Homo sapiens: one gene and its partner. The protein of the gene in region 1 interacts with the protein of each later gene in a biochemical or structural test. Each region holds a gene or a part of one and is shown on either strand. Other genes may lie near its edges.

What was found.
Region 2: the proteins of DNAJB5 (region 1) and TBPL2 form a complex in vitro, tested with the Homo sapiens proteins (one study listed by BioGRID).

The regions. Positions count from the first base shown.
Region 1 is NC_000009.12:34,985,891-34,992,990, forward strand, and holds the start of DNAJB5 (dnaJ homolog subfamily B member 5), read left to right. Parts: upstream 1-3,854; 5' UTR 3,855-3,941; intron 3,942-4,399; exon of another isoform or gene 4,400-4,608; 5' UTR 4,609-4,740; coding exon 4,741-4,922; intron 4,923-7,100.
Region 2 is NC_000014.9:55,413,603-55,416,809, reverse strand, and holds the end of TBPL2 (TATA box-binding protein-like 2), read left to right. Parts: intron 1-2,354; coding exon 2,355-2,431; 3' UTR 2,432-2,600; downstream 2,601-3,207. UniProt on the Homo sapiens protein: Transcription factor required in complex with TAF3 for the differentiation of myoblasts into myocytes. The complex replaces TFIID at specific promoters at an early stage in the differentiation process.

The DNA of each region.
Region 1 (7,100 bases):
AGGAGGGAGGCCATCTGCAGCCAAGGTGATGGGTCAACGTGGCATTCCTACACCCAGGAGAAAGCATCAGGTAATGAGTACCCAGGCACTGGAGAACTCAAGAACAAACATGGAGACTGCCCAGGGGAGAGATATGAGGGACAGGGGACAGCAGGAGATAGTCACTCATTTCTTTTTTTTCTTTTCTTTTCTTTTCTTTTTTTTTTTTTTTTGACAGGGAGTCTCGTCTCACTCTGTCACCCAGGCTGGAGTGCAGTGGCGCGATCTCGGCTCACTGCAACCTCTGCCTTCTGGGTTCAAGCGATTCTTTTGCCTCAGCCTCCTGAGTAGCTGAGATTACAGGCATGTGCCACAACACCTGGCTAATTTTTTTTGTATTTTAGTAGAGATGGCAGGTAGTCACTAATTCGTAAGGCCCTCCCAACTTTAAGGATGGTGATGGGTAGGCCAAGTAGCCCCCTGTTCCTCAGTATTCTAGTATCCCAGTATTCTAGTTCTGGTTTCCTGTTAAAGCCCCCGCTCCTGCTCCCACACACACACTAGTACTACCACATACAACTCATAGGTACAACTGGGGGAGAGAAGTGGCCCAAGGGCCAGTTCTGTCACTGCAGGGAGGTGGCAGCTGTGAGGGTAGTCTTCCTTCCCCCCAGGATTCTCTGTTTCTACTGGCAACAGGGCCTGGCAGCCTCCCACACCCAGATCTTAGCAACCATGGGAACCCCTGGCAACCATTACCATGGTGACAAGACAGGGAACTGAAAACAGGCTGGGGGCACTTCCTCTGCAGCCTTCGGGATGTGAGCAGGATAGGGGCTCCCTTCCCTATACAGTCTGGGAGGGAACATGTGCCTCTGTCTAAAACACCTCCTCACTGGCACCCACCCCCACCCCTGCCCACGGGTTCCGGTTCCCTCAGGGTGAGGAAATGAGGGACACCTAGGGTTATGACGTCTCCAAGGGGAGGGAGGGTGAGTGGGGGCGTTTGGGACTGGCATGATCGCAGATGCGTGCATACGCTGGCAGACATGGTGTCAATGTGTCAGTGCCTATATACCTTATCCACTCTTTGTCATGTAGACACATGCCCGCACAGTCATTTACTCACACATGTACACTGACCCAAAATCATATACCTACAACATATAACAGAATCAGGCACACCACCACACAAAAATAACTGCACAGATCCACTCACAAATCACATTACCAGTACCACACTACAAATAACTCCCAGACTCACAGATTTATAGATGCACTCGCACTCCCAGCATCTGTGAACATGTAGAGTAATGGTTAACTTGGTTGAGTTAACCAAGTTAACCATTGGTTGGGTATAAACTACATGCCCAGCTCAGAACTAAGTGCACTACCTGTGTTACCTTAATTAACCCTCTCAACAACCCCCTGAGGCACCAATCCCCATTTACAAAGGAGATGAGGCATGAGTGTGGCGTGTAAGCTCACAAGGTGCATAGACTCCAGACCACACTGTCACAGTCCATGCCACACTGAGCACTACACACACGTGACACCCAGGACAATGGGACTGAGGGCGGGAACCGAGGACTAGGCAAACAGTGGAGTCTGTGCCACCAACACCTGAAGGCACAGTTCTGCACCCTCAAAGGTCCGAGCCTACACTTTAGCATTAGCAGGGGCCAGGTAAAGGCTGGTGACTAAACTCTCTGCCTCCGTGTTGGCACAGGCAAGGCTGGGGGAGGCAAAAGAGACAGAACTGGAATAGGAAGAAGTAGAGCCACCCACAGCCTGGGCCCCACAGGTGTGGAGGTGGAAGAGTGAGAGCCCCCAGATCTGAGGAGCCAGCAGCGGTGCAGGGCCCCTCACCCCACCTTACCCATCTCTGTGTCACACAGAGATGTCCATCCCTCCTCCCTCCCCTCCCCCTTCCTCACTCCTCCTCACCCCATCTCTGTGCCTCATCCTTTCATTACTCACCCCTTCTTTCCTCATCCCTCACCCTGCCTTCCTGCCCCTCCCCAGCCCTTCTTTCCTTATCCCCCACCCTGCCTTCCCTCCCCTCCCCAGCCCTCCTTTCCTCTGCCCTCCTTACTCCCACCCTATGGCTCATCTGCCCCATGCCCCTCCCCTCCTCATCCCCCTCACCCCATCTCACCATCCTCTCACCACCCCCTCTCCCTACCTCCCCCCCTCAACCCCATTTCCTCAAATTCCTCATGCTCATTTCCCCACATTCATCACCCATCTCTGCTCCCCTCCTGGCCCCCAACCCCACTTCCTTTCCATCCTCCTTTCACCCCAAGTCTCTTTCTTCCTTCACACCTCATGCCCCTTTACCCTTGGGAGCCCCATAGTGACTCCTGGCATGAAGGTAGGTAGTGAAGAATCTACAGACATGACTCCAGGACCCTGGCACCCCCCCCCCGCCTTGCTCTGCTCTTGGCCCAGGTACTCAAGCTGCAGTTTCTAGCAAGACCTCATGGGTGTCCAAACTCTGTCTCTGGAAAATAGGAAAGAAAGAAGTAAAGGGGAGCTTCCGGCCTGACCCTTCTATCATCATCAACCCCCCAGCACTCCCCTCCCCCACTTCACCCCCAAATTACTCCCTCCCCACCCCCGCTCCCTCGAGCACAGATGGGCCTGGGAGACAGTGACGTGGGCGCCAGGCACCGTGTCTGCTGGAGTGGCGGCTTCCGCTGGCGACCGCCTCCGCAGCCCCGCCTGCTCCCTGCATCGGGGACACTGGGGCTGAGATCTAATGACTTAATGGGGGGTGGGGGAGACTAGAGATTCTGAGGGTGTTAAGGAAGGGGATCTTGGGGAGTGAGATGAAAGATGAAAGGGGAGAGCTAGGATAGGAGATCGGGGTGTAAAGAAAGAACCAAGAATAAGACAAAAGGGATCACTGCGGGAAGGAAGACAGGAGATCATCTAGGGCCAAGAAGGAAAGGGCTAAAACACAGGCACTCCAGGGGGAAGCAGGATGAGAGACTGATTAGAAGAGGGACTGAAATGGAGACCGCGGGGTCGCTGAAGAGGGGCGCGAGGATGAGGGGCTGTACAGAGGGTGGGCGGGGGAGATTCCTGGAGGCACCGGCCTGGGCAGAGCCATCCGTTTCCCTCGGGGGAGAGGTCCGGGGGGCTCTGAAACCCGGCATCCGTGGGGTCTGTTAGAGATTCCGTTAGGTCACATCAGGCCACCGCGGGGTCAGGATAAGGTAAAGCTAAATGAGGTCAGCTTGAGGTGGTTACACCGTTGGCTGAAAGGCGAGTAAGAAGTGCTGACCTTTTGGCCCCGGTCCAGGGACTACACCTCCCAGAGTGCACTGTTCTCTCCCTCTTGCCCCCCAATGAAGAAAGGAAAGAATGCACGGCCGCACGGCCAACTGGTGGGTACAGTTTTCCTTTAAGGCTGCCTTTGACGTCGCAAGGGTTCCAGAAGGTTCTCCTGGGATTCGAGCAGTGGCCAGTACGTCCCACCTTCTCAACCCGGAGATTGGACTAATATAGTTTGCCCCCGGGCTCGGGTCTGAGTCTCAGGCACGAACCAATAAAATCAAAGGGCGAGCGAGGTTGCCGCCCTCTGTCTTTTTCACCAATGGCACGACAAGATGGCAAAGAGGCGTGGTTGAGTGATCCCAGAGGGCGCCAATCAGATCCACACCAATCACTGCCTGGAATGTGTGCGCGTGTGGCCGGGTGACAGGGGCGGAGGATGGGCGGCTATCACCAAGCCGCTTGTTGAAAACTGCCCAATCACAGTGGAGGCTGAGCTGAGTGACAGGAAGACGGTTCAATGGGCGGCGCGGAGGCGGAGCCGTGGGGGCGGGCTCCCGGTCCCGCTATCGGCGGCCGGCGGGCAGGCGACTCCTGTCCCGGGTGGAGGCGGCGGAGCCGGAGCCGGGGGAGGGGGCAGCGGCTGTCTCACGGACCACGGCGGCGCCCGCAGCTCCTCACCGGTGAGGGCGCCAAGCCAGGACTCGGGGGTCCCGGGAGCGGGGCGTCGTGAAGCCAGGGCTCCTGGTGTTGGGGGGTTGGGACACTGAGGGCCCGTAGGCTCTGCTGCCTTGGGGATGCGGGGCCCCGGGGTCTGCAGGGTGCTCGGAGTCCTAGACCAGGGCTTGGCTGTCACAGGGGGCAGCCAGCGTCTGAGTCGGGGAGGGGAGGGGAGGGGAGGGTCGAGTCGGACCGGACCAGATTGGGTTCTGTGGGGCGGAGGCATCTGTGAGCAGACCAGCCAGCCAGCGCGGGTGACATCACCGACCACCCTCCCCCGCCCGAGCCCCCTCCCCTCCTCTCCTCGCCGCGCCTTTTGTCCCGGCCGAGCTCCGCTCTGCCCCGCCCATCTGCGAGGGAGGAGACTCCCGTCAGTGACTTCATTGAGTAGGTTCTTGGGGATTGGGGTCGGGTCCTCCCCAGTGAGAGGCGACAGGAGCTCACTGCCTCTCGGGCCCTCACAATCACACCTGTCACAGGTATACACGCTGCCACTCACAAACACACGCTTGCACTCCCAGCCTCACTGACACGCTGCCATACAGCCGCTCACAGCCAGCCAGACACTGCTGCACCTGAGAGCAGGTGGCCGCGGGTCTTCTCCCTTCACTCTCCACATTTGGGGATCAGGTCCGGCACCTGCTGCGCCAGACAGGCCTTGCTGGGCACGCGCCTCTGAGAGTCCAAGGAGGTGGCTTCCAGAGCTGCAGCACTTCAGGCCGGCTCCGGTGGAGCGATCAGAGGTGAGGGGCTTGGCTGGGCATGTTTAAGCGCACAGTGCTCTCCTGCCCACCCCCAGCAGCACCCCCACTGCAGGCCCGAGGAGCTTTCCGGAGCTTCCCACACTCCTGGGGAGAAGACTTCTTAGCCAGCTTGATGTTTAAAATTCAGCTGGAGCCCTTAAAACTTCGAGCGTGGACGCTGAATGGGTTTGTAAAGTTTCGGTAAGTCCCTCCGGAGAAGGGCACTCACACCCATACCCAGTCAAACCCTCCACGCGGCCATCCCCTCCATTGCCTTCCTGCTTCCTCCAACTCATCCTCATCCCCTCTGTGACATACAGGAACCCCCCTCCGGCCTCACCCACATATTTGAATGAATTGCACCCCTTATCATTCCTTTTCTCAAACCCTTCAGGTATCCATTTTCCACAGACATTTCCTCCATTATTTCAACTCTCCACATTCCTCCCTTTCAACCCATCATTAACCCATTTTCCACCTCAGCCATTTCCATCTGTCACTCATCCCCCTCCATCAGTACCTCATTTTCTGTATCAGCCATCTCCCCTCCCTGTACCTCAACAGTCCCCCTCGCCATTTTCTCCCCATTTTTCCTTCCTGCCTCTACCTTAACATCCTCCTCATTCTTCTCCATCAAAGGCAGTGCCATGCCATGGGGCTCCTTTGTCATTCCAACACGTGGCCTGTGGGTAGGGGGGAAGGGAAGGAGGGAGGAAAGCAGAAAGAGAAAAAGGAGGCAGATCCTGAAAGAGCTTGCCCTGTGTCTGCGGAGGCAAGAGATGTATGGGCCTAGAGCAGCTAGCAGGTGGGTACCAGGGAGGAAGCTGGCCGGGTGTGGAGGTAATGCAGGGACACCAAAAGGAGGTGGGTGGTTGGTGAGCCGTTCCACTGGCCCTCTGCCTGGAAGCTGCTCTCGTTCTCTAGGGGCACCCTCTTGGTGTGCTAGGGTTCTTTCCCAGTCCCAGGGGAAAGAAGGTGTGGGTTGAGGCAGAAATGGCAGACCACCCCCCCCCGCTCCCTCTCAGACGGCTTTTGCTGCCATTTCCGAAAACGGTTGCCCCCCCCCCCAACGAGGTGCTCTTTCTTCTCTGCCTCTCCCAACCCCACCCCCCACCCCATCTCCCCCACAGACGTGACATGCTGGTGGGGGGCAATGGGGGAGTACCCGCCTTTGTGGAGCCTTTTCTTCGTCAGAGAAAGGTGACTCCCAGAACCATGAGTCAACCCAGCCACCTGCAGCAGGGCCTGTGGGGGCAGCAGTGAGGGCCATTGTCCCTGCCCACCTAGGGCCTTGGGCGCCTCCCCCTTACCCGGTTACAGGCCTCACTCCTGGAAGGACACCCTGTACACCTCCCTGCTGTGAAGCAGTCAGAGGCAGAAAGGCAGGTCTCAGCTGTGGCTGCCAGCCTAGGACATTGCTAGAAAGACTCTGGTTCTCCTGGCTTTGGCAGGGGTTGGCCAAGTCTCAGAAGGGCTGAGAATGGCTTCTGGCCATCCCCCAGAGAGCTCTAGCTACAGGAAAGTCCCCCTTCCCCTGATATCCACCACAGACACACCGATAGAGGGAGACTGGAATGGAAGAATTCGGGTTGTACGTTTCTCTTATAACAAATGCTCCTGCACCCACCTTAAAAGGGACTCAGAGGAATATGGGTCTGATGATGGGCCGGATCCTAAACCACAGGGTGGACTGGGGGCGTAGGGTGAGGCTAGGAGAGGTATTAAGGAAATGGTGGTTGGTTAGTGCCCAATTGTCTCCTAACAGCTGGGGTTGAAAAAGTCCTGTCCCCAGGATGCTTTTGTTCACTCACACTGGTGCTTAGGCGGCACAGCCCTCACAGTTTTGTGTGTAGACGCTGGCAAATGAGTAAAGGGAACTGTTGCCCTGGTTGGGGGAAGGATAGTGTCGCCCCCCCTGCTAATGAGGGAGTTGGAAACAGCAGTTTCCAAAGGCTGTGAGTCACCCTGTGATCTGAGTCACACGTGAGGCTTAGCATCGTCAGAGGGGTGGGGGCGGGGAGGCCTGGGGTCTCCGATGGCAGACAGGACTCCAGACACCCATTCCCTGACTCAGTCTGGCTGGCCAGGACAGCTGGCGGAAGACCCAGGCCTGTTCCCGGTCCTGGGCCACTGCCCCAGCTGCCCTCAGCCTGGGCACCATGCCTGAGGCGTGGCGTAGGAGACCACGATGCTCAGGTGACCTCACCCGTTACACTGACCTTCGCCAGCTCCTGTGTGTGGGTCGCTCAGTCCATGGTGCCACCTCGCTCAGCAGGGCCTCTCAGGGGTCCTCAGTCTGGCCCAAGGACCAGGGCCTCAGCCTAGCCCCAAGAGTGGGCCACAACCTTCAGCTTCCTGCTGGGAAAACCCAGGAGGTGA
Region 2 (3,207 bases), on another chromosome or scaffold:
AGGGGCATGTGTGTGTTTGCTGTACCTATTATGCTTCATTGTCTGCTAACAAGGTTGTTCAAGACGAATGCAGCTAGAAGCCCAAAAAGTCCATCAAACCAGAGGCAGTGGTTCTTGCTTCTTCACCAACTCACTGTTTAGTTTCTAAAGAGTTTGGTTTTGTAGAAACCAAAATTTTAGAGCTGGAACTAAAAATCTGCTGAAACTTGTGGCTTTTTCTACCCCAAAGAACCAGTTTCTCTTATGTGTGTCAGTAACTCACTCTCCTCCCCACCGCAAATCTTTGAAGGTGAAGACCTACAGATAGTAAACTTTTTGGCAATGAATAAATAACTTTTCTTCTCTTTATTTTTTCTCTTTTTATTTTTTTCCTTTATTTTTATGGAGACAGGGTGTCCCTATGTTACCCGGGCTGGTCTCAAACTCCTGGGCTCAAGGGATCCTCCCACCTTGGCCTCCCAAAGTGCTGGAATTACAGGTGTGAGCCACCATGCCTGCCCTTATTTCTTAAAAAATTAAGCTTATAAGGACTTCATCCCTGATTGTTTAATATTTAAGGTGAACGCACATAACAAATTTAACCATTTTAAAGTGAACAGTTCAGTGGCATTTAGTAGCTGGTTGTGTATTGTGAATATACCACCGGCTCTACCTAGTTCTAAAACATTTCTATTGCTCCAAAATAAAACCTGATATCATTAAACCATTCCCCCCATTCCCCTCTCCTCACTTCCCCTGGCAACTACCAATCTGAATTCTGTCTCCATGGATTTAACTCTTCTGGATACTTCTTATACATAGAATCTTATAACATGTGACTTTTCATGTCTGGCTTTTCACTTAGATGAGCCTAAGAAACATGCTATATGTTGTAGCATGTGTACTTCATTTCTGTTTATGACTAATATTCTATTGTATATACACACCATACATTTTTTTATTTTGAGACAGAGTCTCGCTGTGTCGCCCAGGCTGGAGTGTAATGGTGCGAACTCTGCTCATTGCAACCCCCGCCTCCCAAATTCAAGCAATTCTCCTGCCTCAGCCTCCCAAATAGCTAGGATGACAGACGCCCACCGCCACGCCTAATTTTCTTTTGTATTTTTAGTAGAGACGGGGGTTTCGCCGTGTTGGCCAGGCTGGTCTTGAACTCCTGACCTCAGGTGATCCACCTGCCTGGGACTCCCAAAGTGCTGGGATTACAGGTGTGAGCCACCACGCCCCGCCTACACTATAAATTGTTATCCATCCATTGACGGGCATTTAAGCTGTTTCCACCTTTTGGCAAGTGTGAATAGTGCTGCAATGAAAGTGCGTAGTATTTTTTTTGAGTACCTGTTTTCAATTTGGGGTGTATTTACCAAGGCGTGAAATTGTTGGGTCATGTAGTAATTCTTTAACTTAACCACCGAACTAGTTTCCACAGTAGCTGAGCCATTTTTTGTTCCTATCAGCAATGTACTTTATAGTTCTTAAGAGTCTTTATCAACTAAAGCTATTTTCCATTTCTCTTCATGCTAACAGTTGTTATAGTCCTTTCATTATCCTCCTTTCTTCCTTCCTTGCCTCCAGCCCACAAAATATCAGATTAACTGATTAGTGTCCTGATTAGCTGAAGCTCCATATAAATATAAGTAGTACAAGTACATGACCCTTAGCACAACGTGCCTGCATAATTTGGAAGCTGGAGGTAATGGTGGTGTTTGGTTGTTGGTGAGAGATGAGTAGGGACTAATACTTCTCAATGGTGGAGACTGTTTGATTCATGTTTTTATCCCTGTAATTCCTACAGCAGTTATGATTTACAATTTCTTGAAACAAGACTTTACGAGTGACAGTAGTACAGTTTTCCCCTCTAATAATCCCTTCCCATGCACTAAAATTTAAAACTCTTTTAAATTTAGAATTTTAAACTAAAATTTAAAACAAATTTAAAGCTCATTTGTCTCCATCTGTTATCAATATTAGGGAATCAAGATGTTAACTAGAGAGGACGTGGATCAAAAGAAGTCCCTTTTGCTGGTAGCTAAGTGCCCGCAGGTGCTGATGAAATTACTCTGAGGCCATATTCATGGCACATGTAGAGATAACATTCCACATTTCATACTGAGCACTGTGTGAGCAAAGATGACACCCACAGAGAAGTTCTAGAAAACTCTGCTCTAAGGTTTCTGTCTTGTGGAAATATGGCTGTAGTTGCCAAATTATTTACCCGGAATAAATGCCATTTCTCAGGTACAGCTAAAGAGATGTCATATTAAAAGTAATTGGAGACAATACAATGAAATTTTAGTGTTTAAGTAAATGTTGGTATTTTTATATTAAAAATTATATAAACCTGGATTTCTTTATAGGTGCCAAAGAACGTTCTGAGATCTATGAAGCATTTGAAAACATCTATCCTATTCTAAAAGGTTTTAAAAAAGCCTGAGCATATCATTCAGCATCTCACATTATTCTGGTTTGAATATGTCCATAAGCCCAGCACAGAAACAGCTGGATTCTTCTACGTTTAATTGTAGATGTTACAAGTACGTTACTTATTAAAGGGCGACTCTGTGTAAGTAACCTAAGAAACGAAGAAAAATTCTTATTCAAAATGACTCCTTTTGTGTTATTTTAAAAACTGAACAAGTAAACATTTCAAAATTTGAGAGATTTAGGGTCTCACTAGAATGATATTGTAGCATCATGAAGACTCAATGCGTTTCCTTTTAGCCGGAAGGGCCATCTTCCAGTAATTTGCCAAAATGACGAACACAAAGGGAAAGAGGTGAGGCACCTGATACATGTTCTCTAGGCCTTTTAGAAAAGATGGAGTTGTTCCTTTGGCCACATACATGCGAATCTACGAAAAAGGTGATATTGTAGACATCAAGGGAATGGCTGCTTTTCAAAAAGGAGTGCTCCGCAAATGTTACCACAGCAAAGCTGGAAGAGTCTACAGTGTTACCCAGCATGCTGTTGGCATTGTAAACAAGGGCAAGATTTTTGCCAAGAGAATGAATGTGCTTACTGAGCCAGGCTGGTCTTGAACTCCTGACCTCAGTTGATCCATCTGCCTGGGCCTTGGCACTCTAAGAGCCAAGTAAGTTTCCTGAAACGCGTGAAGGTAAATAATCAGAAAAAGACGTCAAAGGGAGAGGTGTCTGAGTTCAACTGAAGCGCCAGCCTGCTCCACCCAGACAAGCACTTAGAACCAATGGA